Linked DNA regions of Homo sapiens. The protein of the gene in region 2 interacts with the protein of the main gene of each other region in a pairwise test. Each region holds a gene or a part of one and is shown on either strand. Other genes may lie near its edges.

Region 1 (4,209 bases), on a different chromosome or scaffold from region 2:
GGTGACAGAGTGAGACTCTGTCTCAAAAAAAGAAAGAGTGTTTTCTCCCTCCACCTGTCCCACCACCCAGCCTAGAAGGAAGACTGTCTACCAGCCTGTGGATCATCTCTATCCTCCAGGAGGTGTGGAGGGGCTGGCCCAGGAGGACATTACATATGTCAGGACCCACAGTCAGGTAGGGCCAGGTGTTCATTGACCTACCAGCCACATGCAAACAAGAGGTCGTATGTGTCTGCCCTTTTCCCCTTCTCCTCTATACCATTTTAATTCTAAGCACTGTATAGACATCACCCATTTAATCCCTTAAGAATTCACCCAGATAGCTATTATTATTATTATCCCCAATTTACCAATGAGGAAATTGAGATTTAGGTAGTTAAAGTAATCTACCAAATCACACAGCTAGTGATGGGAAAAGCCCAGTTTCTAATCTAGTCTGCTCAATTTCAGAGTCCTGTGTCTAAGCATGCACAGCTCACCTGGGTCGTGAGCACAAGATGATAACTAAGAATGCAAAGCCTCTCTCCAGTTGCAGGGTCTTTTTTTTTTTTTTTTTTTTTTTTGAGACAGAATTTCACTCTGTCACCCAGGCTGCGCAATCTTGGCTCACTGCAACCTCTGCCTGCCAAGTTCAAGCGATTCTCCTGCCTCAGCCTCCTGAGTACCTGGGACTGCAGGTGCGTGCCACCACACCCGGCTAATTTTTTATTTTTAGTAGAGATGGGGCTTCACCATGTTGGCCAGGCTGGTCTCGAACTCCTGACCTCAAGTGATCCACCTGCCTCGGCCTCCCAAAGTGCTGGGATTATAGGCATGAGCCACTGTGCCTGGCACAGGGTCTTCTTTCAGGGTGGAGTAACTTTGTACCACTGTTAGTCAGTCTCCCTGGGTTGGGAAGGACAGGAAAGGACTGTACCCACTGCTGAGACACAGGGAGTCTGTCCAACTATGACATCATCATTGTTACATGGTGAGGTGGGGACAGACCTTGGAATAGGACCTGTGTCCGTAATGCTGATCCTGAGCCCTTCTCCGGCCAGGCAAGTCCCCCTTGTCATGCAGCATCATTCACGAAGGAACAGCAGCTTCACAGGGAGACCACAGTCACTCCATTACACTCCATGCAGCCAAAATTTGAAAGACTGTTTGCTTATTTTGTCTTACAGAGAGAGAGAGGGTGGCCTTGCTGTGTCTTGCATAAATGCACACATCAGTATGTTTCTGCAGTGTTTTAAGTTGTCTCTCTATGCTCTACATATCCTTTGACACCCATGGACTTATCGTAGACGCTACCAGAAGTAAGGGCATAGTGGTATACTTTAGAACTGTGAAACAGGCCAGCTGGAAGGACCATCTGGTCTACCCGCCCTGGTTGGGAGATAAAGAAATTGGAGAGGTAATGCAACCTGCCCAGTGACGCCCAGTATGTCAGTGGCAGAGCTAAGACTAGAGCCCCCCATTAGTTCCAGTGCCCAGAACCAGGTATCCCTTTCAGAGAGGATCTAGGAAGTTGCTGATGGAAATGACAACGATAACAATGAGAATCCCAGCAGGGAGGGAAGAACGGAGCGGTCTTTTGCTTCTGGTGCTTGTATTCTCATGGAGTGGATGCTGACTTGATCCAGAGGGGTGTGAAGGAAATTGGGCTCTCCCTTCAGGCACTCCTTCAGGAGGCAGGAGACGGAGGAGCAGCGAAGGAAGCTGTGGGAGCAGGGCAGCGGCAGGGGGTACAGAGGAAAGAAGAGGAGTCACAACAAAGGACAGAGGTATCTTGGGTGGGACAGGGGAGAAGGGCTGAGGAAGGGAGAGGGCAGCTTAGGGTCTGGAGAAAGTGGCAAAGGCCTGCCTTGAGGTTGCTCCCGAAGCAGAAGATCAGGCTGGGGCTGGAACCCAGGGGCCCCACACACCCGCCTGTCCCCCTGGCCTGCCTACTTCTCTTGAGAGCAACCAGAAACCAATACCGTATTTGTCTCCTTCTCCAAGGTAAAGGAGGAGCAAGTCAGAGCTCCAAGACTCAGGTTTTGCACACCCACAAATTCCATTTCCAAAGACCTGATGGAGACTTTGAGTCCCTTCCCTGGATTGCAGCCTCCCAGCAGAGCTCAAACAGAACACACACTCACCTCCATGAAGGGCACGGCACGACAAGAAACGTCACCCAGTAGCCTCTGCTTGGTGATCTCGTTGAAGATGACAATAGGGAGGCAGAAAAAGAGGACCAGAAAATCCCAGAGGGCCAGGCTGGCAAGGATGGAGTTCCAGGCACTCTTCAGGTAGTAGCTGTGCCACACGATGCACATGACCGACAGGTTGCCCACAATGCCCACCGCAAACACCACCAGCGCCAGAAGCATGATGGCATAGGCACTGTAGGAGCTCTCGGTCACCGGATACAGGGGGTTCTGGATCTGTAGCCTCTGCCCTGGTGCTCCTGTCAGATTGCCCCTCAGTTCCTGCCCACTGTCTGGGGTGCCCCCATCCTTGCCGGGGTTAGGGCTGGTGGCCACCAAGGGCTTGGTTGGCTGCAGGCCAGCAGGGTGAATGGGCCGGGGGTACTCCGCCCACTCCTCAGGCACATACTGCTGCACGCCCTTGGCCTCCTCATCCTCGGTGCCCCTCTTGGATCGGCTCTGCTGCTCCTGGGTCTCGGCTCTGTGCCTGCCCAGGTGCAGGGGGGCACCCCCAGAGACCCTGCTTAGCCCCACAGCCAAAATCACAGCAAGAGAGACAGCCAGGGGCCACAGCCACCGCATGGCTGGATGAGCAGGAGACAGCCAGCCCAGGAAGAGCAGGTGAGTGCAGGGGGCCCAAGAGCTGGGCTCCAGAGAGGCAGCTGGCCGGCTGGATCCGCCTCCAGTCAGGCGTCTGGCATCACTCGCCTGCCCTCCCTCCCAGCCTCCGGCCACAGGCCGGGCAGGGCCCTCTGCTGGACACATAGCACTCTTTGCTGCCCTCACACATCTCGTCCTCCACGACGCCGCTTCTCAGGCCCTACAGCATGTCAGGCTGTGGGGCCCTAAGAGGGCATCTGCTTCAGGCCCCTGAAACTAGGGAGGAAATGTGGCCTGCCTAGGGTGACACAGGGAGGTGGGGCAGAATGGGAACTGGGGCGCAGGTCTCCTGATTCTAAGGCAGCTCCTCCATTCAAAACTCAGCAATAACCATCACTGTCACTTACTGAACACTTACTAGGTGCTAGCACTCAGCTGGTTTCTCAATTAACCCTTGATTAATCTCAGATCACAAATCTGAGGTTTGTAGAGGTCAGTCACTTGCCACATAGTTGATACAAGGCAGAGCAAGGCCCACAACCCAGATCTGACTCCAGAGATTTCTAATTTTTTTTTTTTTTTCGGTTGCCCAGGCTGGAGTGCAATGGCGCGGTCTTGGCTCACTGCAGCCTCCGCCTCCTGGGTTCAAGTGATTCTCCTGCCTCAGCCCCCTGAGTAACTGGGATTACAGTTACTGTAGTGCCCGCCACCATACCCGGCTAATTTTTGTATTTTTAGTAGAGACAGGGTTTCACCGTGTTGACCAGGCTGGTCTCAAACTCCTAACCTCAGGTGATCCGCCTGCCTCAGCCTCCCAAAGTGCTGGGAGCCACCGCACCCGGCCTAAAACACCATATTCTGAGCCAGACACAAGATGTGTGGACATTTGCAATAACACGTCTTTACTGACTACGTGTTGTGTTCCAGACACTCAGAATACAAAAATGTAAAGGATCTCTGCCACCAATGAGCTTTCAGTCCAGAGAAGGAAGTAAATGTGTAAGTTCAGCATGATAGATGCTATGAAAGGCAAAGGTCATGATGCTGAGGGAACCCAAGAAAATCTGGGGGGGATCTGGAAGGCCTCCCAAGCGAGGTGACATTTGAATGGATCCCGAGAAATGGCTGTGAGCTTGCCTGACAGACTACGGGAAGGGAGGGTGCTCTAGGCAGAAGACACAGCACACACAAAGGCTGGGTGATGTGGAAGTGGGTGATGTTCCCGCAAGAGAGCAAGTCTGTCGAGGGGACTAGAGTGCAAGGGAGGTGGGGAGAGAGCATGGGCACTTGGGACAAAGAGCTTGGAAATATCAGCAGAGGAGGAACTGGACTGTAAAGGACTTTGTATGCCAAGCCAAGGAGTTTAGATTTTATCCCATAAGCAATGGAGAATATCACAGGTTGTTAAGTAGGCAAACAATGACTCAACTAAGTTATT
Region 2 (3,500 bases):
CAAAGATGGATCCCAGGTTGGGCGCAGTGGCTCACACCTGTAATCCCAGCACTTTGGGAGGCAGAGGCGGGTGGATCACCTGAGGTCAGGAGTTCGAGGCCAGCCTGACCAACATGGTGAAACCCCATCTCTACTAAAAAATATAAAAATTAGCTGGGCATGATGGCGGGCACCTATAATCTCAGGTACTTGGGAGGCTGAGGCAGGAGAATGGCCTGAACCCAGGAGGCGGAGGTTGCAGTGAGCCAAGATCACGCCATTGCACTCCAGCCTGGGCAACAAGAGCAAAACTCCATCTCAAAAAAAGAAAAAAAAAAAAAAGATGGATCCCGGAAGAGCAAGCAAGTCCCTCATTCGGTGGCCTGACTAAACCATGAGAGGCTTCAATCTCCTGTTCTCTAGAGCTGGTTAAAAACTACAGCTCAGGTCGGGCATGATGGCTCAAGCCTGTAATCCCAGCACTTCAGGAGGCTGAGGTGGGCAGATCACAAGGTCAGGAGATCAAGACCATCCTGGCTAACACGGTGAAACGCTGTCTCTACTAAAAATACAAAAAAAAATTAGCCGGTCACGGTGGCAGGCGCCTGTAGTCCCAGCTACTCGGGAGGCTGAGGCAGGAGAATGGCGCAAACCTGGGAGGTGGAGCTTGCAGTGAGCCGATATCACGCCACTGCACTCCAGCCTGGGCGACACAGCAAGACTCCGTCTAGAGAAAAAAAAAAAAAAAAAAAACACTACAGCTCAAAGGCCAAATCCAGCTCGCTACCTATGTTTGCAAATAAAGCTTTATTGGAACACGTGATCCACACTTGTGTGTATGTGTTGTCTATGGCTGCTCTCACAATACAGTGGCAGAGCTGAGTAACTGCAACACAGATTCTGTCTTGCAAAACTGAAATATTTATCTGACCCTCTATAGAAAGTTTGCCAACTCCTGCCCTAGAGTATTTGTGAAGCCACCCTTCTGAGATGCCCCCCATCTTAACCCCTTCCTCCCCCAAATGACAGCTAGGCCCAGAGACAGCCCAACCCACCCTACCCCCATAGCCCCAAGCCCAACATTTACAAAGGCCAGCCTTGGAGAGGGAAAGTGCAGCTTTGTCCAGCCTGAGCCCTATCCCGCCTCCCTTCCTGACCTCTTACTCACCACCTCCATAGAATACCACCATGCCAGCAACCATAAGCACTGGGTGCCAGTTGAACATGTAGATGCTGCCATTCCAGGCAAAGCCACCACGCCAGTACTGCATCCAGTAGATAGTGAAGAGGATGCACATAGAGCCCAGGGACCCCAGCAGCAGGCAGGACAAGTAGAACCGTCCAGACACCATTCTGATCACGCACTCCTAGAAGAAGGAGAAGTCACAAATCTCCACTGGCTCAGATGCACCCAGTTCTCTGGCTAAAGGAGGTAACACTGATTTAGCTCTTGGCCTGTGGGATGGAATCTTTTTGCTTCAGTTCCCCTGCATCAGCCTGGGCACCACCCCCCGCCCGAGGCCTCAATGCCTGGGTGGGCCTGATCTTCAGTCACAATGACTGAGGCCCCACCCCAGCACCTGGCAGTGCCCAGACAGAGCAGCAAACTCAAGGCTATGGCTGGCCCTGGCGAAGGCCAGATGCCAAGGCCCAAGACCCAGAGTCCTGGGATTCCTCTCCCCTCACAGGACCAGAAGGTAAAGAATTACCACCCCATACCCCCCAGGAAAAAAGGGACAGGAATCAAAATCCAGGCTAAATTACGCAAACACCCAGGCCTTGGGTTCTAAGATAAGAAGGCAAAAATTACAGTCTGAAAAGAGCAAACACCCCACTATTACCCTAGACAGGAAGGAGTCAGAAAAGTTCTTCCCCATAGAGTAAGCTCTATGGGGCTAATCTTCACTGGAGAGGTAACCAGGCCTTCACTCCACTGCCCACACTCCACACCTTGAACCAGCTGATGCCCCTCAGCTGTCTCCAGCCCTGAGACTTCTGCTTTCTCTTCCTCTGGGGAAAGTCCAGAGAAAAAAAGAGGAAGCAACAACTCATGGTCCAGAAAGCAAGAGATTTATTTTGAGATTTCCACAAGTCCTTGATAAACCCAGAAACCAACTCTGGTTTCAGGCATGGCAAATGCTTAAAGCCCTGAGCAGTTGCTCTTAAACGCTAGGTGAGTGGGCAAAGCCACAGGACTGGCCCTGCTTTCAGCTAATATGTAGGCAGCACGGGCCCAGGCATCAAGGCAGTCACCCTGTCCCACGGACTCACACCAAGAAGGCAACAGTGTGGCTTCCTGCATTGAGGTCCCTCACTCGGAAGCAGCTAATAGCCAATAGCCCCCACGGAGGTAAAACATTTGACTGCTCACCTTTAGCCCTAATGATAGGCTCAGAGAACTGGCCTGGGCTCCAATTCCTGCGAAATGGGCACCTTGAGCAAATCACTTAACATTTGCAGGACTCACCTGCAAGAAAGGCGTGGCAGTAAGAATACTTGAACAGTAAGAATAACGAACACCAGCTACGAGCACCAGAGCCTTACACACAAGATCCCATTTACTCCTCTTAACCCTGGGAGGCATATTATTCCGTGAGGAAACTAAGGCTGAGAGAGATAAGTAATTAGCATGAGGACCCAGTGAGAGTGGGTGGGGAGTTCCAAATCCTGTGTGTTTAGCTTCAAGGCCCACGCTGCTTCCTTGACCACAGGTTGTCAGATCAAGTGAGAAAATGAATGTAGCACACTGTAGAAGTCAAGTATTAGAATTCTTCGCTGGGCGCGATGGCTTATGCCTGTAATCCTGCACTTTGGGAGGCTGAGGCAGGTGGATCACCTGAGGTCAGGAGTTCGAGACCAGACTGATCAACATGGTGAAACCCCGGTCTCTACTAAAAATACAAAATTAGCCAGGAGTGGTGGTGGGCGCCTGTAATCAATCCCAGCTACTCAGGAGGCTGAGGCAGGAGAATTGCTTGAACCAGGGAGGCAGAGGTTGCAATGAGCCAAGATTGTGCCATTGCACTCCACCCTGAGCAATGAGAGCGAAACTTCATCTCAAAAAAAAAAAAAAAAAAAGGCTGGGTGAGGTGGCTCACACCTGTAATCCTAGCACTTTGGGAGGCCGAGGCGGGCAGATCATAAGGTCAAGAGATCGAGACCATCCTGGCCAATATGGTGAACCCCCGCCCCCATCTCTACTAAAAATAAAAAATTAGCTGGGCATGGTGGCGCGCGCCTTTAGTCCCAGCTAGCTACTCGGTAGGCTGAGGCAGGAAAATCGCTTGAACCCGGGAGGTGGAGGTTGCAGTGAGCTGCGATCACGCCACTGCACTCCAGCCTGGCGACTGAGCGAGACTCCATCTAAAAATATATATATATACATAGAATTCTTAGTCATTGCTGTCATGCACTTCATCCTAACTACTAACATGCAGCTCATGTTCCTTGTGCCTGCCCAGGCCTCTCAGTGGCCCTCAGCCATGCCATGCCAGCTCTCCCCATGCTAGGGGTCCACCTAC

Evidence for each region.
Region 1: the proteins of CYB561A3 (region 2) and GPR37L1 interact in binary tests that used the Homo sapiens proteins (3 or more experiments, as listed by UniProt).

Annotation. Positions count from the first base shown.
Region 1 is NC_000001.11:202,121,508-202,125,716, reverse strand, and holds the start of GPR37L1 (G-protein coupled receptor 37-like 1 precursor), read right to left. Parts: upstream 2,801-4,209; 5' UTR 2,754-2,800; coding exon 2,124-2,753; exon of another isoform or gene 1,984-2,123; intron 1,767-1,983; exon of another isoform or gene 1,659-1,766; intron 176-1,658; exon of another isoform or gene 1-175. UniProt on the Homo sapiens protein: G-protein coupled receptor. Has been shown to bind the neuroprotective and glioprotective factor prosaposin (PSAP), leading to endocytosis followed by an ERK phosphorylation cascade. However, other studies have shown that prosaposin does not increase activity.
Region 2 is NC_000011.10:61,355,383-61,358,882, forward strand, and holds part of CYB561A3 (lysosomal membrane ascorbate-dependent ferrireductase CYB561A3), read right to left. Parts: intron 2,447-3,500; 5' UTR 2,351-2,446; intron 1,990-2,350; exon of another isoform or gene 1,857-1,989; coding exon of another isoform or gene 1,821-1,856; exon of another isoform or gene 1,347-1,820; coding exon of another isoform or gene 1,332-1,346; coding exon 1,148-1,331; intron 1-1,147. UniProt on the Homo sapiens protein: Transmembrane reductase that uses ascorbate as an electron donor in the cytoplasm and transfers electrons across membranes to reduce iron cations Fe(3+) into Fe(2+) in the lumen of the late endosome and lysosome.